Homo sapiens: one gene and its partners. The protein of the gene in region 2 interacts with the protein of the main gene of each other region in a biochemical or structural test. Each region holds a gene or a part of one and is shown on either strand. Other genes may lie near its edges. The genes, in order: LDB3, AGMAT, TJP3, PDZD2, DLG2, GRID2IP and PARD3B.

Region 1 (3,500 bases), on a different chromosome or scaffold from region 2:
GGACAGAATAGAGTGAGTTGGAAGAGAGCCTAAATATCGTGCTCAAGTGAGAAACATCCACGCAAGTGCCTGCTTCAATGCCATGTTTTCAATGAGCATATTAACAGGGCTTCCTAAAAAGGGAAGCGACTACACTGTTTCCAACCACAGAATCTAAGCTGCCTTCTTTATCACCAAACAGCTTTAAGATGCTTACCTAACTCAAACTATCACTAGTATAAAGTAGTTTGAAGGCCCCTCTACTTCAATAAATACTTAAATAATAGCTAGATCAACTCAGCTCATACATTTTCAAAATATTGGCCAAAACAGCAAATGCATATATATCAGTGCATCTGTCCCTTCCAGCAGTTAACACAATTGTACAAACTCAGTGTGCTGCATTTAAAGGAACATTTGAAAAGGATGATGCAGACCTGAAGGTGGGAGGTCCTGCCTCCTCGTGTGTTCTTACTGAGGGTGGCAGAAAGTAAGTTTCCTCTTCCCCACCCAGAGTTTGGGCATGTGAGCCTATTCTGCCATCCTGTTTCAGACACTGTCTCTCTGTCTCTCTTCTTTTCCACAGGCCACCAAGCCTATTTGAGATGGAGGGTACTGGGGGAGACGTCATAAGTGAGCAGTCACAAGTTGGGGTGAAATTCATGCACACGACTGGACACTCATGCTAACGAACCCTTAAAGCTAAACAAAGGCCAAAGACAACCCAAAGCCTTTAAAAAAATCTCTCACACACCACAGAGCAAAACTGGAAAAACCCAACTCTACTTTCCCATCACAATTCAAAAAGGAGCTAAGCCTTCTGGGGATGTTGGATGTTTCAGACTGAGAGAGGGTGGCTGACAGGGCCATCTTTTCTCAGCTGTCTGCAACCTGAGCCAGAGCCCTTCCTGGAGCCCTGGCAATTGCCCAGTGGCTCCCAGAAGACATCTCTTTGGACGTCCGGGCTCCCAAGAAGGTTTTAAGTTTGTTCAAGGTCTGAAGTCTGATGCGCAGAGGTAGCTCCATGACGCTAGTAATGGAATAACACTTCCTTTTTTGGTGAGGAAAGCCCAATGGGTCTTAGCTAACAAGCTCTCAGCTATGACTCTAAAAATACCCTGCAGCGAGTGCTGTTTGGCACTTCAATTTGTTTGCCAGGGGAGCGCTTAAGAACTCCGCAGAATGCTTCAGATTCTCCACAGCTGCTCTAAGCTCTGTCCTCCTCTGGTGACCAAAGCAAGTGTATCGCTTTGGGAAAGCTGCTTGTTGCTTTTCACTTTTGAGTTCTTGGAATTCTGCTCTAAATGTCTGAAGTACAATTCCAGTCTTGGATTAATAACTAGCTTGGTTTTGAGTCTTCATTTGGCTCCTAGTCTGAACTATGCAAATGCACGATCTGTGTACAGAAGAAAAAACCTAAAATTATACTTCCAAAGGGCTCAGTCGCTTCCTCTCTCTCCCCATTCCCCTCAGAAGAAACATCAGCCTCCCGAATCCTTTGTTGCCAGCAGCAGGAGCAGCTCCGGGCCTCGTCAGCACAGGCGGCCTTGGCCGCCTACAAGTTGATGGTGTGTGCGTGCTTCTTGCACAGGGGTCTGTCCTTCTTGGAGTAGAACGGCTGCCCCTCCAGATTCACATGGCAGACCTGGAGCAGAGAACAGACCTGCGTGAGACCCACGTGGCACAGGGCATGAGCAGATTTCAATCACTTTTTTAAGAAAACGCCCTGGCCAGGCGTGGTGGCTCAGTCCTGTAATCCCAGCACTTTGGAAGGCCAAGGCAGGCAGATCACTTGAGGTCAGGAGTCCAAGACCAGCCTGGCCAACATGGCGAAACTCCATCTCTACTAAAAATACAAAAATTAGCCAGGGGCATGTTGCCATGTGCCTGTAATCCCAGCTACTCGGGAGGTTGAGGCAGAAGAATCTCTTGAACCCGGGAGACAGAGGTTGCAGTGAGCTGTGATTGTGCCACTGCACTCCAGCCTGGGCAACATAGCAAGACTGTCTAAAGCAAACAAACAAACAAACAAACAGCCTTGCCCCATGCATTCTAGAGAAAAGGCAACAGCCTATTTCTCCCACTATGAATTCTTAATGACGGAAGCAGAGTACATGAGTTGGACTATATAAAAACTAAGATTCCTGAAGAACAGAATAAAATCAAATGAAATTAATTAAATTTAATGGAATAGAGAAAATATACACTATGAAGCTGACCAATTCATGCTATCTAAAATAGCATGAATAGAGTCAATACAAGTTCACAAGTCAATATACCACAGAGAGGATTCACGTCTAAAGAAAATCATTAGTAAACTAACAAACACATCAGAGAAGATTGTACTCACTAATAATTAAAGAAAAAGCAAATTAAAACTCCCCTGACTCCAGGCGCAGTAGCTGATGCCTGTAATCCCTACACTTTGGAAGGCCAAGGCAGGAGGATCGTTTGAGGCCAGGTGTTTGAGACCAGCCTGGGCAACATAGTGAGCCTCTGTCTCTACCAAAAAAAAAAAAAAAGAAAAAGAAAGAAAGAAAAGAAAATTAGTTAAAAAAATTACAAGAAAAACTGCCCTGAGATACCACTAGACACATATTAATCTAGCAAGACAAATAAAACAAAAAAACCTCAATGGCCTGTCACCTTTAACCTAATATGCCTGTAGCCAAAAAGCTTAAAAAAAAAAAAAGTATTCAATCAAAAATCAGCAATGCCAAAAAGGAACAAGGCCTACTCGTGCACTGCTAGAGACATGTGAGTGAGCTCAGTGTTCCATAGGGAATCTGGCCATGTTGAACAAGAACCATTGAGATGTGACTACCCTGTAACCCAGTAATGCCACGCTAGAGAATTTTATCCTGCAGAAGCAACTCTGCAGAACAACAAAACAACCTGTGCTCAACTAGAAACTGAAAACTAGTAAAATTTCTCTCAATAGGAAGATGATTCAGTAAATTTTCATGGTGTATTTTTCCAATGGAATGCCACCATTTAAAAAGAGAGATGGGCCAGGCATGGTGGCTCACGCCTGCAATCCCAGCATTTTGGAAGGCCGAGGCAGGAGGACCACGAGATCAGGAGTTTGAGATCAGCCTGACCAACATGGTGAAACCTTGTCTCTACTAAAAATACAAAAATTAGCCGGGTGTGGTGGTGCGCACTGGTAATCCCAGCTACTCAGGAGGCTGAGGCAGGAGAATCACTTGAACCCGGAAGACGGAGGTTTCAGTGAGCTGAGATCATGCCACTGTACCCAAGCCTGGGCGACAGAGCGAGATTCCGTCTCAAAAAAAAAAAAAAAAAGGTAGATATGGAAAAGTATGCAGAGAAATATACAAAAAAACAAAAGAGATGAAATTCTTTTTTTTTTTTTTGAGATGGAGTCTCACTCTGTCACCCAGGCTGGAGTGCAGTGGCGCGATCTCAGCTCACTGCAACCTCTGCCTCCCGGGTTCAAGCAATTCTCCTGCCTCAGCCTCCCTAGTAGCTGGGATTACAGGCGCCCACCACCATACTCA
Region 2 (4,190 bases):
GTGAAATTCTGTCTCAAAAAAAAAGAAAAAAAAAAAAGATATGCCATGCTTGATGCTGGGCATTTCATGTGCACTTTCATTATATGCCCCTCACATCATGCAGTGAGTAGGTGTTACTGTGATCATTCCCATCTTACAGGTGAGGGTGTGAAGCATCAAGCACGGTATACAGCAACATTGCTAGGGAGAAGTGCAGCTGAGACTTCAAACCATGCCATCGGGAAACCACACTCCTCCCACTATGCCATGCAGGCTAGGCTCTCTAACTTGGCAAAAATGAATTTGGATATTTAGGAAAAGATCCCTGTCATTTTAAGTATTTGTGAACAAGAGAAAAAGTGAGAGTGGGTCAGGGGTGAGGATAAGGGGAAAGCTGCCCTATAGGTTGATGTAGACCCTGAGCAGGACAAAAACACCCTCTTTGCAGTTCTCCTCGCAAATAAAGTCATTAGAAACATCATCTTGGCCAGGCGCGGTGGCTCATGCCTGTAACCCCAGCACTTTGGGAGGCCAAGGTGGGCGGATCACTTGAGGTCAGGAGTTCAAGACCAGCCTGGCCAACATGGCAAAACCCCGACTCTACCAAAAATACAAAAATTAGCCAGGCATGGTGGTGGGCGCCTGTAATCCCAGCTACTTGGGAGGCTGAGGCAGGAGAATTGCTTGAACCCAGGAAGTGGAGGTTGCAATGTGCCGAGATTGCACCACTGCACTCCAGTCTGGGTAACAGAGTGAGACTGTCTCACACACACACATACACACACACGTGAAATATTCTCTCCCCAGGGATTAAAATAAATGAATTACAATGCTCTCTTTCCTACTGTCTGCACATTTGCAGTGGCTTGCAGGGGAGAAGTAGCTGTACTCAAGCCCCTGAGTACAGGATAAGTAAACCCTGAGTGCAGGGAACTACTCTGGCTCTTGCAGACTGACATTACCCAAGGTCAGAGGAATACAGCCAGCTGCTACAATTTTCTCATAGGCCTCTTGAATTCGCCGGCAGCTGTCCTGAAGGTTGTAAAGATTGACATTCACATCGCCTAGGTCTGCAACCATGAGGGACTGGAAGGGGAGGGCCCCCGTGCTAGGATTGACTGTCCCAAGCATCACTGATTCTTCCCGGATGCGGCGAGGTCCGAATCTGCAGAAGGAAGAATCATCCTGTCAGCCATCATCTGCAGAGATTTCAGGCTTTGCTTAGGCCAGGGCTTCTCAGCCTCAGCAATTTGGGGCCAGATGATTCCGTGTCGCGGCATTGCATAATGGAATGCTTAGCAGCATCCCGGCCTGTACTCACTAGGTGCCAGTAGCACCCTTCCTCCAAGGTGTAACAACCCAAAACGCCTCCAGATACTGCCAAATGTCCCCGGAGTGCAAAACCGCCCCACTTGAGAATCACCGATCTAGGCTATGTATCGAAGAGACTAAATAAGTGTACTAAATGGCATTAGTGAATTTCATGATCTACCTGAGTCTCAGTTTCCTAATTTGTAAAATATTTACCTTGCACTGTAGTAAAAATTAAATGAGGTAATCTATGCAAAGCACCTTGCACTTAGGAGACATTTAATAAGTGCTGGCTTTCATAATTCAGATCAGTACGGTCAGATATAGTGTTGCTGAGCTGAATCAGAAATTGCTGACGTTCAATAACTAGGAAGATGAATTTTGCTTCCTCCGACTTGATCCTAGGAAAATTGCCTTCATTTGAGCATTTCTTGAGTCAGGTGACATCTTCAGATTTGGGGAAGGGGCAGCCAGTTTCTGCTCTCAAATGCAATGTCACCTGCCACTGTAAGCTGGGGAGAGGAGAGGGGAGGAATCCACAGCAGCCATCCCAGCAAGGCCCCAGGATGGGGACACAGAGAAGGTTCAGGCTCCAGAATCCCTTCTTTTTTCTTTTTTTGAGACGGAGTCTCACTCTGTTGCCCAGGCTGGAGCGCAGTGGCGCAATCTCAGCTCACTGCAACCTCCGTCTCCCGGGTTCAAGCGATTCTCCTGCCTCAGCCTCCCGAGTAGCTGGGATTACAGGCCCGCGCCACCATGCCCGGCTTTTTTTTTCTTTTTTTTGTACCTTTGTAGAGACAGAGTTTCACCATGTTGGTCAGGATGGTCTCGAACTCCTGACCTCGTGATCCGCCCGCCTCAGCCTCCCAAAGTGCTGGGATTACAGGCATGAGCCACCGGGCCGGCCAAAATCCCTTCTTGACCAATGATGACACTAAGATGTGGGAGGCCACGCCCATGTTGAGCCCTGGGGTTTGCTTATTGAGGGTCCAGGTAAATCAACCATCTCAAACCATAAGGGGCATTTTGGAGCCGGCCACCAGCTTCCAACTCGACCCGGGGCCAGCAGGGGCGCCTGTCTCGGTGCTTTCCATGCCCGACAGCCAGCAAGCAGTCCCTCCACGTGTACCCGGCCCCCGTCCTTCCGGCCTTACCTCGCCCCAGGCCGGTTGGAGGTCCCAGTATCCAGGGGCACCCCGATGAAGGCAGCGTCCAGCCCCTCGGGGGAGGTCTGCACCGGCAGGCGCATCATGGAGCAGACGCCCACCGGCCGGGCCACGAACTCGGGGCTGGGGGGCTGGTTCCGGGGCGCGTCGGAAGCCTGGCGGCTCTGGCGGCGCCCCGGATGAAAGAGCCCTGCGGCAGGACGCGCGCCCACGCCGGGCCCCGGGCCCCGGGCGCACCCGGACGCCAGCAGCCTCAGCATTGCCGCGCGCGGCCAAGACCTCACCGACCAAACCGCCCGCGAGGCCGCCGCGATCTGGCTGGTCCCGAACGGCGAGGCGAGTGTGCACGCGCCAGAGCCGGAACCCGAGCCGGCTCAAAGGTCAGGGGCGCCCTAGGATCAAGGCGGGGGAGGGGCCCCAGGACCTGCCGTGCTCTCCCCTCAACCCCTCTGGACTTCAGCCTCTGGCAAATAGAGTCAGGCTGGGGGTGCCCACTGGCCGGCACTGTGCCAGGGGTGTCTGCGCCCTGCTCCCCACTGTGGCCTTCAGCAGCCTCTTCTCCCATTCAGAGTAATTGTTTGTTTTTATAGAGACGGTCTCACTGTGTTGCCCAGACTGGTCTCCAACTTCTGGACTCAAGTGATTCTCCCACCTTGGCCTCCCAAAGTGCTGGGATTACAGGTGTGAGCCACAGCAGCCACCCCAGAGTAATATTTTTAAAGCCAGAAAGATATGAAGGAAAATGATCTTTCTCTAAGCCAGAAAAATAGGAAATGCATTTTTTTAAATAATGTATTTTTAAATGTCCAGGGATAGGAATCTCAAGAAGCAGTAAAGTTAGTTAGCTACTTAGCTAGCTAGCTAGTTATTTTGAGACAGGGTCTTGCTGTGTTGCTCAGGCTGGAGTGCAGTGGCACAATCATAGCTCACTGCAGCCTCAAACTGCTGGGCTCAAGCAATCGTCTCACCTCAGCCTCCCGAGTAGTTGGGACTACAAGCGTGAGCCATCGCGCCTGGCCAGTAAAGTCTTTTTAAATAACCTTGTTAAAAAAGGACTAGAGGCCAGGGGCGGTGGCTCACGCCTGTAATCCCAGCACTTTGGGAGGCTGAGGCGGGCGGATCACGAGGTCAGGAGATCGAGACCATCCTGGCTAACACGGTGAAACCCCATCTCTACTAAAAGTACAAAAATTTAGCCGGGCATGGTGGCAGGTGCCTGTAGTCCCAGCTACTTGGGAGGCTGAGGCAGGAGAATGGCATGAACCCGGGAGGCGGAGCTTGCAGTGAGCTGAGATCAGGCCACTGCACTCCAGCCTGGGCAACAGAGCAAGACTCCGTCTCAAAAATAAATAAATAAATAAATAAATAAATAAATAAATAAATAAAGGACTTACAGGCAAGCTGTAAGGAAGGTCACAGTGCCAGAGAACCTGTTACATCCTCTTTATTTCTAAGGGGAAAGAAAAACACACGTGGAAAGAAAGAAGTGATTTGTAATGGAATTATGTGAGCCATTTAGCAGTATTATATATATTATTTTTTCTGATCTCTAAATGTTGAGATTGAATGGAAAAGGCTCACATTTGCATTTACGTTGCAACCTCTACACAAAGGTTGCACATTAGGCCAGGCGCGGTGGCTCACACCTGTAATCCCAGCACTTTGGGAGGCCGAGGTGGGCGGATCATGAGGTCAGGAGATGAGACCATCTTGGCTAACATGGTGAAACCCCAT
Region 3 (3,500 bases), on a different chromosome or scaffold from region 2:
CTCTACTAAAATTACAAAAATTAGCGGGATGTGGTAGCGTGTTCCTGTAATCCCAGCTACTCGGGAGGCTGAGGCAGGAGACTTGCTTGAACCCGGGAGGCAGAGGTTGCGGTGAGCCAAGATTGCGCCACTGCACTCCAGCCTGGGTGACAGAGTGAGACTCTGTCTCAAAAAGAAAGTAAGTGAGGTGAGGAGAAACCTTTGTGAGCCTGGCACTTTCCAGCTCTGTCAACACAGGGCTCGGACTTGGCAGTAGGACAGTGTCAGAGACTTGGGCCTCACTTCCCTAAGGTACTTCCTGGTCCTTCACAGGAATTCTTGGGGTCATAGTGGCCCCAGAGCCCTTTTGGAACATAAAGTCCTGGAAACCATCGAGTGTTTGAGGGTTTGATGCTTCTTGGAATTATGTTGTTAAAATGGTTCTGGGCCCCAAGTGGCTGACAGGTGATATGGCTCAGCCCAGCCCAGAATTAGGGACCACCAGGTTCAGAGAGAAAGAGCTAGAAAGAAAATATGAAATACAGACAGGAAGAGAGGGAAAGAAAAGCAGAAAGTGGGGATTTGTGGTGTGGGGAGCGAGGAGTGAGAAGATGCCAGGTGTAGCTGTAGCTTCAAGGCCGGGTGCAGTGGCTCACACCTGCAATCCCAGCACTTTGGGAGGCCGAGGTGGGCGGATTACCTGAGGTCAGGAGTTCAAAACCAGCCTGGCCAACATGGTGAAACCCCATCTCTACTAACAAATACAAAAATTAGACGGGTGTGGTGGCGGGCACCTGTAGTCCCAGCTACTAGGGAGGCTGAGGCAGAAGGATCGTTTGAAACGAGGAGGTGGAGGTTGCAGTGAGTTGAGATCATGCTACTGCAATCCAGCCTGGGCAACAGAGTGAGACTCTGTCTCAAAAAAAAAAAAAAAAATGTAGCTTCCACTCTATGATTATAGTAGGTTCTACAATTGGCTCCATTTTACAGGTGAGAAAACGGAGGCCCAGAAGGATAAATGTCTTTGTGAACCTAGGGACACCAATGAATTAGAACCAGGCCTTGTAGATCTGGAGGTTCCAGGGGCACCCCCTCCCCAGGGAGGGCTTGTTACGAGGGTCTCCCCTGCAAAGCCTCCTCCGTAAGACCCGCCCTCCTCTCTCAGGACAGGCGACCACATCGTCATGGTGAACGGGGTTTCCATGGAGAATGCCACCTCCGCGTTTGCCATTCAGATACTCAAGACCTGCACCAAGATGGCCAACATCGTGAGTAGGCAGCCCCTGGCATGGCCAGCATCTCTGACCCCAGCCTGGGTCGTGCCGCTGTGGGGGTTGTAAGCTTCTGAGAGCAAGGAGTCATCTTCTCATCTTACAGTTTGGACATTGAGGCCCAGAGAGAGACTGGTGTCCCCCAGGGCCACCCGGGGGCTGAGCAGAGCCTCCCCCAGCCCTTGCCTGTAGCTGACCCTTCCTGTCCCCTCCTCTAACAGACAGTGAAACGTCCCCGGAGGATCCACCTGCCCGCCACCAAAGCCAGCCCCTCCAGCCCAGGGCGCCAGGACTCGGATGAAGACGATGGGCCCCAGCGGGTGGAGGAGGTGGACCAGGGCCGGGGCTATGACGGCGACTCATCCAGTGGCTCCGGCCGCTCCTGGGACGAGCGCTCCCGCCGGCCGAGGCCTGGTCGCCGGGGCCGGGCCGGCAGCCATGGGCGTAGGAGCCCAGGTGGTGGCTCTGAGGCCAACGGGCTGGCCCTGGTGTCCGGCTTTAAGCGGCTGCCACGGCAGGACGTGCAGATGAAGCCTGTGAAGTCAGTGCTGGTGAAGAGGAGAGACAGCGAAGGTCAGAAGAGGCGGGAGGTCGGACACGATCAGTACTGGACACAGGGCACCGTGGTCGGATGGGCGACGGTTTCAAGTGATTCTCCTGCCTCAGCCTCCCTGGTGGCTGGGACTCCAGGCGCCCGCCACCATGCCTGGCTAATTTTTGTACTTTTGGTAGAGATGGGGCTTCACCATGTTGGCAAGGATGGTTTCGAATTCTTGACCTCAGGTGATTCACCCACCTCGGCCTCCCATAGTGCTTGCTGGGATTGTGGGCGTGAGCCACCGCGCCCAGCCTGGAAGCTACAACTACACCTGGCATCTTCTTGCTCCTCGCTCCCCCCACCACAAATCCCCACTTTCTGCTTTTCTGTCCCTTTCTGCCTGTCTGTATTTCATATATTCTCTCTAGCTCTTTCTCTCTGAACCTGGTGGTCCCTAATTCTGGGCTAGGTTGAGCCATATCACCTGTCAGCCACTTGGGGCCCAGAACCATTTTATCAACATGTCCCCGCGCTGATCCCCGGGACCTCTGTTTAGGCCACCTCACTTAGCAAGAGGGACTCAGCAGATGGGATGGAGTGAAGGACCCTGAGCTCAGAGGTGATCCTGGATGATCTGGGGGGCCCAGTGTCACCACAGGGTCCTTATAAGAGGAGGCCTGGCTGAGTGTGGTGGCTGATGCCTGTAATCCCAGCACTTTGGGAGGCCAAGGCAGGCAGATCACTTGAGGCCAGTAGTTCTAGACCAGCCTGACCACTATGATGAAACCCCATCTCTACTAGAAATACAAAAATTAGCCAGGCGTGGTGGTGTGCACCTGTAATCCCAGCTACCTGGGAGGCTGAGGCACGAGAATTGCTTAAACCCGGGAGGTAGAGGTTGCAGTGACCTGAGATTTTGCCACTGCACTCCAGCCCCGGCGATAGGAGTGAGACTCCTTCTCGAAAAAAATTAAAAAATAAAAAATAAAAATTGAAACAATGATGATGTTATGAGCAATAGAATGCCCTTAGCCTGTGCATGGCAACATCACGAGTGGCACGGTGACCTGGTGTCCCCGCCCCGTGGAGATGTCATTGACACAATCAGATCTCGGGTCCTACGGGCGACATCACTGTTCTCCTTATGATGCCATCAAGGTGTTAGGATGGGAGGGCCCGCACCTGGACTGCTTACAGCAGGAGAATGCTCCCAGGCACCCGTCTCCAGAGTCCTGCCTCAGTTTCCCTCCTCCCCCCTTACAGAGTTTGGCGTCAAGCTGGGCAGTCAGATCTTCATCAAGCACATTACAGATTCGGGCCTGGCTGCCCGGCACCGTGGGCTGCAGGAAGGAGATCTCATTCTACAGGTGAGGCCGGGCTTCTTGTCCTGAGAGCAGGGAGACAAGGCAGGGTTGGGGCGGGCAGTCCCACGGAGTCATACAGCAAGGACAGCAGAACTGGGCCCCAAAGCATTTACCTTCAGTGTTGTTGCTTGTATCTCAAAGGTTGCAGATGGCCAGGCATAAAACCCCCTTTTTCCCCAGCTACTACTAATCCACAGCCAAATGTCGGTTTCTAGTATCCCCATGGGGTTGTCTGTTTCTAATACCCTCTAGCTTTGATGTGCATCAGAGACTCATGTGGGCAGCTGACTCCTGGACCTACCCTAGGTGACTGGATGCTAATGACCCAGTCACCAGGTTTAGGGGAGC
Region 4 (3,500 bases), on a different chromosome or scaffold from region 2:
AATACATATAACTGACAAAACTTGTGTTAATTGACTGTTTATGTTATCAGTAAGGTTTCCGGTCAACAGTAGGTTGTTAGTAGTTAAGTTTTTGGGAGAGTTAAAAGTTATATGTGGATTTTCCACTGCTCGAAGGTCAGTGCCCCAACCCTCATGTTGTTCAGGGGTCCACCATATTTCAGGGCAACGGCGGGACTACACCAATGTAACTCTTCTCTCACCAGCAGGTGGCTCCCTTGACTAGTTTATGTCCACAGTTAGGTGGCGAGAGGTATTTCCGAGATGACTAGCTCTGCTTTGAGGACTCTCTGCAAACAAACTCCACACATAGGAGTTAGGAGAATGGTAACTAGTTGCTACTTGGGGGATGAAAACAGCAGTGACACCCATCTGGCACCTGAACATTCAAGACAAGGTCTAGCTTCTGAAGCTGGCTAGCAGCACGTGAGGCCAAAGTCAGACTGAGCTGTGAAACTCGCAACCCAAGGCAGTCCTCCCTCTCCAGGACTCGGGGCGGGCTCTCCTCGGCTGTCTGGGCAGGCAGCACATACCTGGGCACTCACGCGGCCGCAATTCATGTTCCTGAGCTTTCTGTGTTTCACTCACCTCTGATTGTGCTTTCGCTTCCTGAATGAGAGTTAGGATGGTAGATTTCGATCCCACTGACGATAAAACAGACTGTAATCTTTGCTGGTCCCCCGCTGAGACTAGAAGTTGATCCAAACTAAATAATATAAATATATTTGAAGAACATTAAAGAAAAAAGCAATTTCTTCATTTTATAAGAATGCATTTAAAATGATCTCCTTTCTACTATACAAAAGAGAACAGGTATTTTCTGCTCTCTTTTGGTCAAAACTTCCATTCCAAACTAATGGAAGAATAAATCCTGAGTGCTGAACAGAAATGTCATTCACTGCCAATGGCAAGGGGAACTGCTATGAATTCAGAGATCCCCTCAAGAAGTTATGGGACCAATGCTGGAGCTTAACAGGACACTTCTGACATGTTTTAAAATATTCAATACATATGTTCAAGTGAAATATTTTTATTTTTATTGAGATGGAGTCTAGCTCTGTCACCCAGGCTGGAGTGCAGTGGCACGATCTCAGCTCACTGCAACCTCTACCTCCTGGGTTCAAGCTATTCTCGTGCCTCAGCCTCCCGAGTAGTTGGGATCACAGGCACCTGCCACCACGCCTGGCTAATTTTTTATTTTTAGTAGAGATAGGGTTTCACCATATTGGCCAGGCTGGTCTTGAACTCCTGACCTCAAGTGATCCGCCTGCCTTGGTCTCCCAAAGTGCTGGGACTATAGGCCTGAGCCACTGGGCCTGGCTTTTTTTTTTTTTTTTTCGAGATTGAGTCTTACTCTGTTGCCCAGGCTGGAGTGCAGTGACGCGATCTCAGCTCACTGCAACATCAGCCTCCTGGGTTCAAGCGATTCTCCTGCCTCAGCCTCCCAAGTAGGTGGGATTACAGGCGCCTGCCACCATCCCCAGCTAATTTTTGTATTTTTAGTAGAGATGGGGTTTCACCATGTTGGCCAGGCTGGTCTTGAACTCCTCACCTTAAGTGATCTGCCCGGCTCAGCCTCCTAAAGTGCTGGGATTACAGGTGTGAGCCACCACGGCTGGCCTCAAGTGAAATATTTTTAAATATGTTAGAAATTCTCCGTTTAACTCCAGCCACCTCCAAAGTCCAAATTCCCCCGTGCTGTGCTCTCTCTTCCTCTGCATGCCCCTCTCATGTTGCTTTTGCTTAAGTGCCATGTCCTCTAGAAGCCTCTCCTCAGAGCGACACTTTGGTAAACATGTTTCCCTGCAGGCACTTTTATTTTTCCAGCAGTGATATTAAAAACCAAGGGCACTAAAATGGAATGTAGTATCCTGGATCCTGGGACAGAAAAACGATATTAGCAGAATTTATTCAGCAAAATCTGAATGAAGTCTGTAGTTAATGGTATTGCTCCAACATTAATTTCTTACTTTTGACGAATGGACCGTGGTTATGAGAGATGTGAACATTAGGAAGAGTGGGTAAGAAGTGGCCGGGTGCAGTGGCTCACACCTGTAATCCCGGCACTTTGGGAGGCCGAGGCAGGCGGATCACAAGGTTAGGAGTTTGAGACCAGCCTGACCAACATGGTGAAACCCCGTCTCTATTAAAAATACAAAAATTAGCCAGGTGTGGTGGTGCACGCCTGTAATCCCAGCTACTCAGGAGGCTGAGGCAGGAGAATCGCTTGAACCCGGGAGGCAGAGGTTGCAGTGAGCCGAGATCGCGCCATTGCACTCCAGCCTGGGCGACAGAGCGATGCTCCATCTCAAAAAAAAAAAAAAAAAAAAAAAGTAAGTGGGAACTCTGCATTATCTTTGCAACTTTTCTATAAATCTAAAACTATTCCAAAATGAAACAAGTTTATCTGAAATAAAAGTAGTGGGCAGATACTTACTTAACTGACCAGCTTCTTCTAAAAGGCAGATCCTGGGCAGCTTCACCCGTATCACTGGCTGAACTGGGTGTCTCAGCAGCACTGGTTTTAGGGCCACTTCCTCCTGGACAGGCCCTGTTCCCGCCCTTCTCGGGACACGAAACGCCTCCAGCAGGAGGGCCAGGTGACCTCCTGGGGGTGATCTCCAGCTCAGTTTTGAAGAGCACGGCGCTCGGCCCTGCTGAGTAATCCTCGCTGCAGAGCTTGTCAAGGTCAGGCATGCTCAAGGCTCTCAGCTCCTGGAGCTTGGAGCGGGACACGGGCGAGGGCTGCGTGTGGCGTACCGAGGACTTGTTCCTCTTAACAGGAGAAGCCAGGGTCATCGTTGGGGTGGGAATTCCCAAAGGACCAAGTGATTTCTTTAGTTCCGAATCAGAGCCCTTGCTACTGGTCTCTGGTGGGTTCTGCCGAGAGATGGTCAGTGTCATGATTGAGGGAGACTTGGCCATCTGGGGCAGGAGGGTGCCGGCTTCGCTTTGGTTTTCGCTGCAGGAACTCAAGCTGCGTCTCAACAACCTTGCTGCTGCGTCACCTGGGTGGCCCAGGCTCCCGGAAACAATGCTGCCGGAAGACCGCCTCCCAATGGGAGGCTTGGAGCTCACCGACAAAAATGGGGAAGCCCCGGACTTGGCTACAGGCCGGTCAGCATTGGCCAGGTTCTCAAAAGACTTGATCCGCTGCTTCACAGAGAAAAATGAGGTAGATTCATGGGGCCAGTTCTGCTCATAGCAGTAGTGTCGTCTGGTGACTTTGATTTTGTCTGTGACTAGGCAGCTCGTCTCCTGGACTGAAATGATATCCCCTTCATCTGTGGCTGGAAGATTCCTCGATGTGTCCAGCAGCGGCTTTACACTATATATGCCCTGTCCATTAGCCAGGCTGGGAAGACCACCTCTGGATGCCTTTGCCTCGGGGACAACACTGCTTGTCACAGGGACCTGGCTGTCCCGAGAGCGACCCAGGCTGTGTGGGGGGTGACCCTCCCGTCCAAAATGGCTTGAGAACT
Region 5 (3,336 bases), on a different chromosome or scaffold from region 2:
CCTTACACCTGGTTCCCGGAGGTTTAAAAACAAGAACTTTCGAGCTGGGCTTATGCCTCTAATCCCAGCACTTTGGGAGGCTGAGGTGGGTGGATCACCTGAGGTCAGGAGTTCGAGACCAGCCTGGCCAACATAGTGAAACCCCCGTCTCTACTAAAAATACAAAAAATTAGCTGGGTGTGGTGGCAGGCACCTGTAATCCCAGCTACTAGGGAGGCTGAGACAGGAGAATCACTTGAACCCAGGAGGTGGAGGTCGCAGTGAGCCGAGATCGTGCTACTGCACTCCAGCCTGGGCAACAAGGGTGAAATTCTGTCTCAAAAAAAAAAAAAAAAAAAAAAAAAACCCAAGAACTTTCTTCCTGGATTACCATATGTGAAGTTAGATGTTTTATTTTTTACCTTATTCAGAATATAGAAAGTGTCAGTGCCTTAGCAGTTTGTAAATATCTTGAATCAGGTAATATTAAGTAATCTTTCTGTCAGTAACCAAGATACGAGCTGTGTTTCATCCTAAAAGAACATCCAGGTAGGAGAAACAAAAGTGTACATTTTGACAGTGGTTTATATTTTGTATACAATACAATAATATATTCTGAGGATTGTTTTTAAATATCTAAATCATCTTTCAGTAGTAATTTATTTTTAAGACCTAGTGTCATATGGATAATACTGATGTGTTTTGGAAATCTTTCTACAAGATAACTTTTGTTCAAATGAGACAATAAAATGTACTTAAATCTACTCCAAGTGACTTAGTGTTTTAGGAGATACACAACTGAGCAGTTTGTTTATATTTCTTCCTGTTTATGTTTCTTATAAATAGTGGACTTATGGTATTCTCAATATGAATAGCTCTGTATGGTAAAAATCTCAAGTTACCAGAGATTTGGGGAATTAATGGGTTTTCCTATTAAGGGCTTTGAGGGTTGGGAGGCTAACTAAACTTCCCTCTAAAATCTTCATTATTTCCTCGGTGTCTACAATATCTGAATTTCTGCTGCTGCCAAAATAAGTAAATATACAGACTGTAAGGCCAGTTTTCTTTTCTAAATAGGGAGCTCTCAGTCTGAAAATTGATCATTGCCCAGCTCAGTGCCTGGCTCAGAGTAGGCACCCATAAAATATTGGTTAAATAGATGAGTGATAAATTGTCCAGTACTACAGACAGACATGTAGAAAGTGCAAAGACTGTGAATCATTTGTTACTGATCCAGGATATCCATTGAAAGCATTTCTTAAAATCATGAATGTAACTTTGCTTATATGAATTTTCTGCTTCTTCTTACTAATGAAAAATGATATGAAGCTTCCTGATGAGTCATCTGCTACTGATTTGAGCCTCCAATGTGTAAGTGATGATTGTTCTTCACCATCCAGGAAATTATTTCTAATTCTGGGTGTGTTTGCTTTTGTTACAGCTATTGTCCAAGGAGATACTTTAGAAGATATATATAACCAATGCAAGCTTGTTATTGAAGAGCAATCTGGGCCTTTCATCTGGATTCCCTCAAAGGAAAAGTTATAAATTAGCTACTGCGCCTCTGACAACGACAGAAGAGCATTTAGAAGAACAAAATATATATAACATACTACTTGGAGGCTTTTATGTTTTTGTTGCATTTATGTTTTTGCAGTCAATGTGAATTCTTACGAATGTACAACACAAACTGTATGAAGCCATGAAGGAAACAGAGGGGCCAAAGGGTGGGACAGAAAAGACATTGCAGTATGAAGGAAGGCTTTGGTTTGCTCAAAGTGCCAGGTGTAGGGATGAACCTCTGACGGGCTTTCTGCCCAAGAGATGAGATGAGAGCCTCCTCACCCCAGCAGATGTCCAGAGCTGATTTAGCTGCAGAGCTCTCTGTGTCTTTTGCTTTAAAGAAAAATTGCCAGCACTCGAACCTCATCAGCCTTCCCATTACCCACATCTGTAATTGGTACACTTTGAATTTTATAACTATGCACATCTTTTGATTTCTTAACAAGCAAATGAAAGAAAGAAGGAAAAAAGAAAGGAATCCCTTTGGAGATGACATACTATCAGGGAAGGATAAGTGTGTAGTTTTTTGACTGGCATCTGCAAAGACAAGAATTTCATAAAATTTGCAAGTGTATGGAGGACTAACCTCACTGACAGGAGGGGATTCCACCTGGGATTAGCTTTATGATTGTTGATTGCCTATTTTGCCATTTATAAACTGAAAGAAGGCACTAAAGATGAGAATAATTTATACAATAAAAATATATTAAATGTATAGAAACAAATTTCTATAGGTTAAAAAAGTTTTGTGAAATATTTTGTAAAGACTAATATTGAAAGACTAAATGTATGCAACATCAGCAGATGATCAAATTCAAGACCTGAAAGTTGCACTCTCCCTTTTGTTGCCAATGATCTGTTAAGAGCATCTGAGTTCCTTTTAAGTCTGACAAAGACTTCTTCCTCACTTACCTCCCTTCCACATTAGTGATACACTCTCATGCAGCACATCCCTTAATGAGTTGCCCTCATGGATATTTTTGGAAGACATTTGGTTAATGCATTTTTTTATGCTGATGGCTTTTCAGAGACAAACTTATGCAAATGATCTAAAGGGAAGTTTTTGCTTTCCTCTAGTTAAATAACCTGAGCCTGCCATGCAAATAGTTGAATAACTTTGTTCCTAGTTACTGACATACAATTCTTAAAGGACCATTTAGCATTTTGGCCAACAATGAGTAATTAGGATTAGTACCTTTTTGTTTTACAGAGTAACTGAGAGTTTTGTAACATCCAGAGATGGTACTAGAGCCAATGAGAGATCTGTTCCTAGATGCACTATTTCTTTGAGGAAGAGAGAGAAGAGAAGTGTCTGGTTGGGGGTGAGGGGGTGCAGACTTTTTTGTTTCTATGTACAGAGCAAAGAGATAGAGTCACAAGGAAAGACAATTAATGACTTTGAGCTCAACCAACTGAACTGCCTTTCTTGGAGCTGCACCTGGACCAAGTTTATTTTTTAACAATTATAATAACGATGATTTAAAAAAAGAAACCTCCCAAAGCCTATAAACTGAACTAGAAGAGTTGGTTTCCCACTTTAGAGTGGATGGCGACATCAGCATTGCTTTTGCCCATGGTGTTTGGGGAGAGACTTTTCAGTGATAATAACCACTCTACTCTGGGTTCTGTGCATGCCCAGACTAAGCCCCATCGCCTTATTTCTGGGGTACATCCAGACCTGGCAGGGATTCTGCCACACTGTGCAGCAAACCAGCATGTAGGCTGGGTAGGAGAGCAAGAGATAGAGCCATCAGAGTGATGGGGCTTCTTCACAGTAAGAACATCGGAGCTTAG
Region 6 (3,500 bases), on a different chromosome or scaffold from region 2:
CAATGTGAAATAAGCATGTCATGGAGAATGGGGTACCCATCCCCTCAAGCATTTATCTTTTGAGTTATAAACAATCCATCTACACCGTTTAAGTTTGTATTTATTTTTTTTGGAGCCAGAGTCTCGCTCTGTTGCCCAGGGAATACAGTGGTACGATCTCGGCTCACTGCAACCTCCGCCTCCCGGGTTTAAGCAATTCTCCTGGCTCAGCCTCCCAAGGAGCTGGGATTACAGGCCCCCACCACCATGCCTGGCTAATTTTTGTATTTATAGTAGAGACACGGTTTCACTATGTTGTCCAGGCTGGTCTTGAACTCCTGACCTCAGGAGATCTGCCTACCTCGGCCTTCCAAAAGTGCTGGAATTACAGGTGTGAGCTACTGCACCTGGCCTAAGTTATTTTAAAATGGACAATTAAGTTATTATTGGCTATAGTCACCCTGTTGTGTTATCAAGCTCACAGACTTTTCCTCCGTGGAAGGGAATCTGCTCAGTTCTGCCCCAGCAGCACTTGGCCATGGGGTTTGGGAGGTCAGGGAGCCTGGAAACTTTGTCGGAGTTTGACTATTGCAGAAATGCCTCCCAGCCCACTGCCCAGGCATCAGGTCCCCACCCACTCTGGCCTCCTTCAGTGCCCAAGCTTGGTCCAGTCCTAACCCCTTCCAAATTAACCCCCTCAGGAGTGTCTCCTCCATCATGTACCCTAGCCTGATCCCCTGAATGGGCTTTTCTGACCCTGAGTAGACCAGCCTCTGTGGCCAGATACACACACTCGCATACACACAGGACTCAACTCCAGCTTCCCTACATCACCAAAGTCCAGATCTTCCAAAGCTGTGACTTTCTTCCTGTACCCACAACAGGCTCTGCTGCTATAACAAACAAACCCAACATTTTTTATTGTTGTTGTTTTTGAGACAGGGTCTAGCTCTGTTGCCCAGATTGGAGTGCAGTGGTACAATCATAGCTCACTACAGCCTCCAACTCCTGGGCTCAAGTGATCCTCCTGCCTCAGCCTCTCTAGTAGCTGGGACCACAGGTGTGCACCACCACACCTGGCTGATTAAGAAAAAAAAAAAAGACTGGGGAGATGAGGTCTTGCTATGTTGCCCAGGCTAGTCTCAAACTCCTGGCCTCAAGCAATTCTCCTGCCTCAGCCTCCCAAAGTGCTGGGATTATAGGTGTGAGCCACTGTGCCTGACCCAAAATCAACAACTTAGTGCGTTTGCACTACAGAAGTTTACTTTTCACCCACAGAGTCCTCTAGGGGGTCAGTAGACTTTCTAGGGTGGCTTGATGTCCATACGAGGTCTCAGCATTTCAGACTCCTCCATCTCTATGTGAAGCTTCAGGGTTCCCTATGGAAGAGGAAGAGAGCTTGGAAAATTGTGCATCTCCTCTTAGAACAGCACCTGTCCTCAATGCTCATTGGGCAGAACTAGGTACACTGCTCCTCCCTAAGGATGCTGGGAAATGTAGTCTAATGTGTGTCCAGGAAAGAGGGAAGACCTAGAAATATTGGTGAGTGCGAGTAATGCCTGCTACAATCCCAGATCACCTGCCATGGAGCCAAAGGTCTATCCCAGACTCCATCTAATCCCTGCAGAGTTGGAAGGGGGCACGTTCAGAGCTCCAAACAGGGCAGGATGCAAGAGAAGACCTGCCCAGGAGCAGGGCTGGGCAGCAACCCGCTGAGGGTAGAATCCGACAGGCTGCCCAGGCCAGCTGCAGTGTGTTTTCTGGCAAGGAGGAACGGGGAAGTGGAGGATTTTGGTTAGGGCTCGCTGGGCACCCACAAAAGCTGAGAGTGAATCTCCAAAAATGACTTCCTCTGGAAGATGAAGGGCCTCCGTGGAGCCCAGTTGGTTTTCTATCTTTTTTTTTTTTTTTTTGAGACAGAGTTTCGCTCTTGTTGCCCAGGCTGGAGTGCAATGGCGTGATCTTGGCTCACTGCAACCTCCGCCTCCTGGGTTCAAGCAATTCTCCTGCCTCAGCCTCCCAAGAAGCTGGGATTACAGGCATGTACCACCACGCCCGGCTAATTTTGTATTTTTTTTAGTAGAGACAGGCCAGGCTTGGTGGCTTGGCTGGGCACGGTGGCTCACACCTGTAATCCCAGCACTTTGGGAGGCCGAGGCAGGCAGGTCACCTGAGGTCAGGAGTTCAAGTAGAGATGGGGTTTCACCATGTTGGTCAAGCTAGTCGCAAACTCCTGACCTCAGGTGATCCACCTGCCTCTGCCTTCCAAAGTGCTGGGATTACAGGCATGAGCCACTGCGCCAGACTGGTTGGTTTTCAATCACCAGCCCTCCAGTTCTCGCCTGCGCTTTCTGCCTGCCCCAGTTTTTCCTCCTTGAAGTGGCTGATATTTAATAGAAAATCCATTAGTGTCCCGTGATGATACCTCATGCTTAGATGTAGGCTGAGAACATCTGGGTAATAACTGACACCGAAACCGCACTGTAGCACGGGCCCCAGGAGGGAGGAACTATTTTTTCCTCTTTCTTACATAAAACATCTCTGCAGCCAGCCATGTTCTCCTTTGAATTGAGGTTGCTGCTGACTTTGATTTCCAAACTGGCAACCTTCCCCAGCACGGCGCGTGCGTGGGGAGGGGGCGGCTGGTGCTGCCAGCCTGGCCCACTCACAGGGAGGGAAACAGTGGTGAGCTGGGGCCTGCAGGAAGTGCAATGCAAGGCTGCTTTTTGATTCAGTCCCATCCACATTCTCTGAGTGCCTAATATGTGCCAGGCGCTGTGCTTGGGGCTGGACAAGCATGAGACCCCGGATCATCACACCTGGGTGGGGGAGACAGACGGTTACACAGACTCATGGTGCATCTGTGCTAGGATTCAGACGTGTACAGAACGTGGCCTCTGACTGGAAACCCTCGAAGCTTCCCGCTACTTCTCCTCCCCTTTTGGAATCATCTAGAAAGCGGGTGGATATACAGTTCCAGAGTTCAAGAGCGAGCTCTCGGCTGAAGATCGAGGTCTGAGAGTCACTGTCTGGGGTTCTTCGCCAGAGCTGGGTCGTGGAGAGCCTCAAGTGCAATAGTGAACTGCAGTGGCAAAGGGCAGTGGTACAGAAACAGCACGTGTAGACGGCTCCAGACTACAGAAGGGAGGAGAATGAGCAGCTTTCAGGATCAAAGGAGGATTGTCTTTTATTTATTTATTTATGGAGACAGGGTCTTGATCTGTCACCCAGGCTGGAGCTCAGTGGTGTGATCATGGCTTACTGCAGCCTTGATTTCCCGGGCACAAGAGATCCTCCTACCTCGGCCTCCCAAGTATCTGGTAGCTGGGAATACAAGCGTGCACCACCATATCTGGCTAACTTTTTACTTTTTCTTTTCTTTCTTTTTTTTCTTTTGAGATGGAGTCTGTCTCTGTCACCCAGGCTGGAGTGCAGTGGCGCGATCTCGGCTTACTGCAAGCTCCGCCTCCCGGGTTCACACCATTCTCCTGCCTCAGCCTCCCGAGTAGCTGGGACTACAG
Region 7 (3,500 bases), on a different chromosome or scaffold from region 2:
CTGCCCTCTTGAAAGATGCAGATCTAGAACATCTCTTCATCCCAGAAAGTTCTACTGCACTACACTGCTTTAGATTTTCCAAGAGAGGCCCAAAGCTCTGAATGTTTAACACACTCCTCAGATGTCTTTAACAGTCCACTCATAAAATAGTCTCACAAAAATCTGACAACATTACCATTTGCCCAACTTCTTCAAAGGGAATCTGTAGCACAGAATACCCTGGGAATGAATTCCTGGTTAACTAAGCCACTTGATTAAGCACAGGGCCTCAAGCTACAAATCAGGGCTGTGGCTCCCAATCGCGCACAGGGCAATTAACTCAGCTCAGATAACCAGCCAAACCCGGTTCAGCAAACCCTATGTGCATGGATTATACACAGAGGGTGTGTGGGGATGTGTGTGTGAGAGGGAGAGAAAGAGAAAGAGGAGGGAGGGGAGAGAAGATCCAGGAGCACAAACTCAAATGCCCACCAGCAGGCCAAATAGCAACCATGAATTAAGGCCATAAGTGAGAAAATAAGCACAGAGTAAAAACAGTCAAGCATGATGACAATAACTTATCCTCACTGTTAGGGAAGCAATAATGGAGACTGAAGCATTAATAATTCTTTCTAAAGAGAGCAGAGGTGTCTCAGCTCCAACTGATGGTTGCTATGTGGGAAAGTAAAGCCCAGCATTGTCAGAGCTTCCAATTTGCTTTTCCCCCAAAGAAGATAGGAATCTGGAGTTTTGCATGAAATCTCAAAATATTTAAATGCTGACAACTAAGTCAAAATATAACACTGAGCAGACCTACAAAAATATGTCTGTGGGTCACAGCAGGCCCCACGAGCCCTCTGTTTGCAAACTTAGAAGCTGCTCAATGCAAGCTGAGTAGCAGAACCAAAACCAAGTTGGAAGCATGTGTAATGCTGATGGCGAGTCAGTTCTGTCCACATGCTGTAAAGAAGTGAGGTCTGAATAGGAAATAAAGCACTCAAGTAAGTCAGTGCCCAATCAATTGAAAAGCATTTGAGGAATCCAGTCTGGGCCTAGCTTATGTATACAAGAACCTTAAAATCTATTTAGGTAACAAGGCATCAAAGCCTGAAAAGTTTAGAAATTCAAGAGTTCTAGCCTATTCCTCCAGGCTACTCCCACACATTATCATACCAGATTCTTCTAACTACACAAATTCTCTTAGATTCCGATCCCACAGTTAATCAGGGAATGGAATTGTTAGTCTAATCAGACTACTCCCAGTTCTGGGAAGCTGCCTCAACTTGTAAAACAAACATATTATTCAAAATATCTGAATACAGAAAAGATTCATCTTGAAAACCCTATCAAATATAATTTTTCCTTTCCAAAAAAGGGTGTACTCACATACGCAGTCAGAGCCACAAATTGGCCTTTGTAAATTCCAGCATGCCTGCTATTCCACGAATTCAATGCTCTTATTTCTCATTCATTCCAACCCCAGAACACACTATACATCCTCATTACTAGACAAGCCTTTCCCTTATTCACTTCATCCTCAGTGAATACACACACACACACACACACACACACACACACACACAGTCAGCCCTCCGCATCCATGCATTCCGCATCTGCGGATTCAACCAAACCCCAGATCAAAAATATTTAGAAAAAAAACTACGTGTACTGAACACACACACACAATTTTCTTGTCACTATTCCCTAAACAGTATAGTATAACAACTGTTTAAATAGCTTTTACATTGTATTAGGTATTATAAATAATCTAGAGATGACTTAAAGTATACAGGAGGATGTGTGTAGATTACATGCAAACACTGCAGCATTTTATATCAGGAACTTGAGCATCTGCAGATTTTGGTATCCGAGGGAAGTCCTGGAATCAATCCCCTATGGATACTAAGGGACAACTGTCTATATAAAATGAATGTTCACTTTAAGCAATTATTTGAGCACCTTCTATAGGAAGAATTCTTTAAGGGTAGGAGTAGGAGTATTCCTAATGGCACTAAAAGGTCAATAAATACTCTAACAAATTCCATGCTTTTATTTGTTTGTTTTTTTTTAATGAGAAAAGGCCAGAAATGTCAAAATTCATTTTGAAAAACAATGTGTAATAAATTCACTTTCTGTAAATCAGTGAAAGACACTTAAAAGGTTTGAATCCCTAGACAGCAAGGTTTTAAGCCCTGCACTTCATAATAATAATCCCATTAACAAATAACATGTATTGTGCTTATTCTGTTGCTTAATAACAGATTGGTGTGTAGATATCTAAGACACAGTATCTGCCATCAAAAGAGTTTAAAATCCAATGAGTTCAGCCATACGAAAAGATTAGAGTAGATTAGTGATTCTCAACCTTGGCTGGGCATTAGAATCACCTGGAGTGCTTTTTAAAATACCTATGCCCAGGACCCACTCCTAACCCAATGAATGAGAATCTTGGGGGAAGGGACACAGGTATTTGTAATGTTTAAAATGTTTAATGTGAAAATTAGAGGTTACTGAAGTTCAGCCAGGGTTGAGAGTCCCTGCAGGATACAGCTCAATTACCCATTCACCTGTGACACATAATTTTGATGATAAATTTAACTAATTACTCAACGATCCCCACCATAAGCACATAAGAAGACAATCACTTCTCCACTAACAACTTCACTAAATTGGATTTGGAGGCTGGGACACTGATAAAGTGTCAGGATTCGGAGATAAGCAATCCCACAGTTCTCACCTCTCAGTCCACCACGTTTCCAATGGAGTTCATCAAATGGTGGCAGGAACCTCAAAGGCCCAGACTTCAGAGCATAATTAAAGCCTTCCCAAAAGCTCCCCCTGTATCTTCAGGATCGCATCAACCTCTGGCCTTATCTGATGTTGATTCAGGGGGTTCCCAACATTCCACAAATAGGTTTTCTTTGTTCTCAACAGGTAGTGGTTACTTCTCAGACGCTGTCCACGAAATATAGAATGGCATTCTTGGACTTCACTTACTTTCCAAACTTTAGAAACCTCAACTTCATCCTCAATCTTGAAACCTGTCTTTCTCCCATCTACATTACTCAGTGCCTCAGAAAATAATGGACTTACTTTACATTCATGTTCCCACCAAATTTGGTTCTTTATAGCACTCGCCACCTGGATGTCTAAGATCTTGCCCATTTTCCCATTTGTAGTTAGACTGAGGAATATTTTTCATAGTTGATTTGCAAATCCTACAATATTTGCCTCAGAAACTAGATTTTCTACATGTAGACCTCATAAAATATATAATTAAGAGAAACTTGTGGATATCCCATCACTATTCCAGAAGCAAAATTGCTATTTTTAGGTTGATGTGATATAGCAGTTAGTAGATGGAAATGTCTTTTTAAATCAAGCATTAAAAAACAAACAATATGGATAAATTCCAATTCATAACAACATACATAGTACTAGGCTATGCAGTTAATGGCTGAGAGCAAACATCTAAAGACACAGTTCCTGGTTTCTAAACCCAAATCTACGACTTACTTGTC

Evidence for each region.
Region 1: the proteins of AGMAT (region 2) and LDB3 interact in a test that uses a peptide from one of them, tested with the Homo sapiens proteins (one large-scale study listed by IntAct).
Region 3: the proteins of AGMAT (region 2) and TJP3 interact in a test that uses a peptide from one of them, tested with the Homo sapiens proteins (one large-scale study listed by IntAct).
Region 4: the proteins of AGMAT (region 2) and PDZD2 interact in a test that uses a peptide from one of them, tested with the Homo sapiens proteins (one large-scale study listed by IntAct).
Region 5: the proteins of AGMAT (region 2) and DLG2 interact in a test that uses a peptide from one of them, tested with the Homo sapiens proteins (one large-scale study listed by IntAct).
Region 6: the proteins of AGMAT (region 2) and GRID2IP interact in a test that uses a peptide from one of them, tested with the Homo sapiens proteins (one large-scale study listed by IntAct).
Region 7: the proteins of AGMAT (region 2) and PARD3B interact in a test that uses a peptide from one of them, tested with the Homo sapiens proteins (one large-scale study listed by IntAct).

What each region holds. Positions count from the first base shown.
Region 1 is NC_000010.11:86,731,011-86,734,510, reverse strand, and holds part of LDB3 (LIM domain-binding protein 3), read right to left. Parts: intron 1,625-3,500; coding exon 1,535-1,624; 3' UTR 1-1,534. UniProt on the Homo sapiens protein: May function as an adapter in striated muscle to couple protein kinase C-mediated signaling via its LIM domains to the cytoskeleton.
Region 2 is NC_000001.11:15,582,252-15,586,441, forward strand, and holds the start of AGMAT (guanidino acid hydrolase, mitochondrial precursor), read right to left. Parts: upstream 2,801-4,190; 5' UTR 2,717-2,800; coding exon 2,445-2,716; intron 1,145-2,444; coding exon 942-1,144; intron 1-941. UniProt on the Homo sapiens protein: Hydrolyzes linear guanidino acids to form urea and the corresponding amines. Displays specificity for substrates having a negatively charged head group and short chains including taurocyamine, guanidino propanoic and butanoic acids.
Region 3 is NC_000019.10:3,728,884-3,732,383, forward strand, and holds part of TJP3 (tight junction protein ZO-3), read left to right. Parts: intron 1-1,144; coding exon 1,145-1,247; intron 1,248-1,471; coding exon 1,472-1,823; intron 1,824-3,051; coding exon 3,052-3,155; intron 3,156-3,500. UniProt on the Homo sapiens protein: TJP1, TJP2, and TJP3 are closely related scaffolding proteins that link tight junction (TJ) transmembrane proteins such as claudins, junctional adhesion molecules, and occludin to the actin cytoskeleton.
Region 4 is NC_000005.10:32,090,131-32,093,630, reverse strand, and holds part of PDZD2 (PDZ domain-containing protein 2), read right to left. Parts: coding exon 2,456-3,500; intron 725-2,455; coding exon 607-724; intron 21-606; exon of another isoform or gene 1-20.
Region 5 is NC_000011.10:83,458,009-83,461,344, reverse strand, and holds part of DLG2 (disks large homolog 2), read left to right. Parts: intron 1-1,420; coding exon 1,421-1,527; 3' UTR 1,528-3,336. UniProt on the Homo sapiens protein: Required for perception of chronic pain through NMDA receptor signaling. Regulates surface expression of NMDA receptors in dorsal horn neurons of the spinal cord.
Region 6 is NC_000007.14:6,544,962-6,548,461, reverse strand, and holds part of GRID2IP (delphilin), read left to right. Parts: intron 1-3,500.
Region 7 is NC_000002.12:204,548,475-204,551,974, reverse strand, and holds part of PARD3B (partitioning defective 3 homolog B), read right to left. Parts: intron 1-3,500. UniProt on the Homo sapiens protein: Putative adapter protein involved in asymmetrical cell division and cell polarization processes. May play a role in the formation of epithelial tight junctions.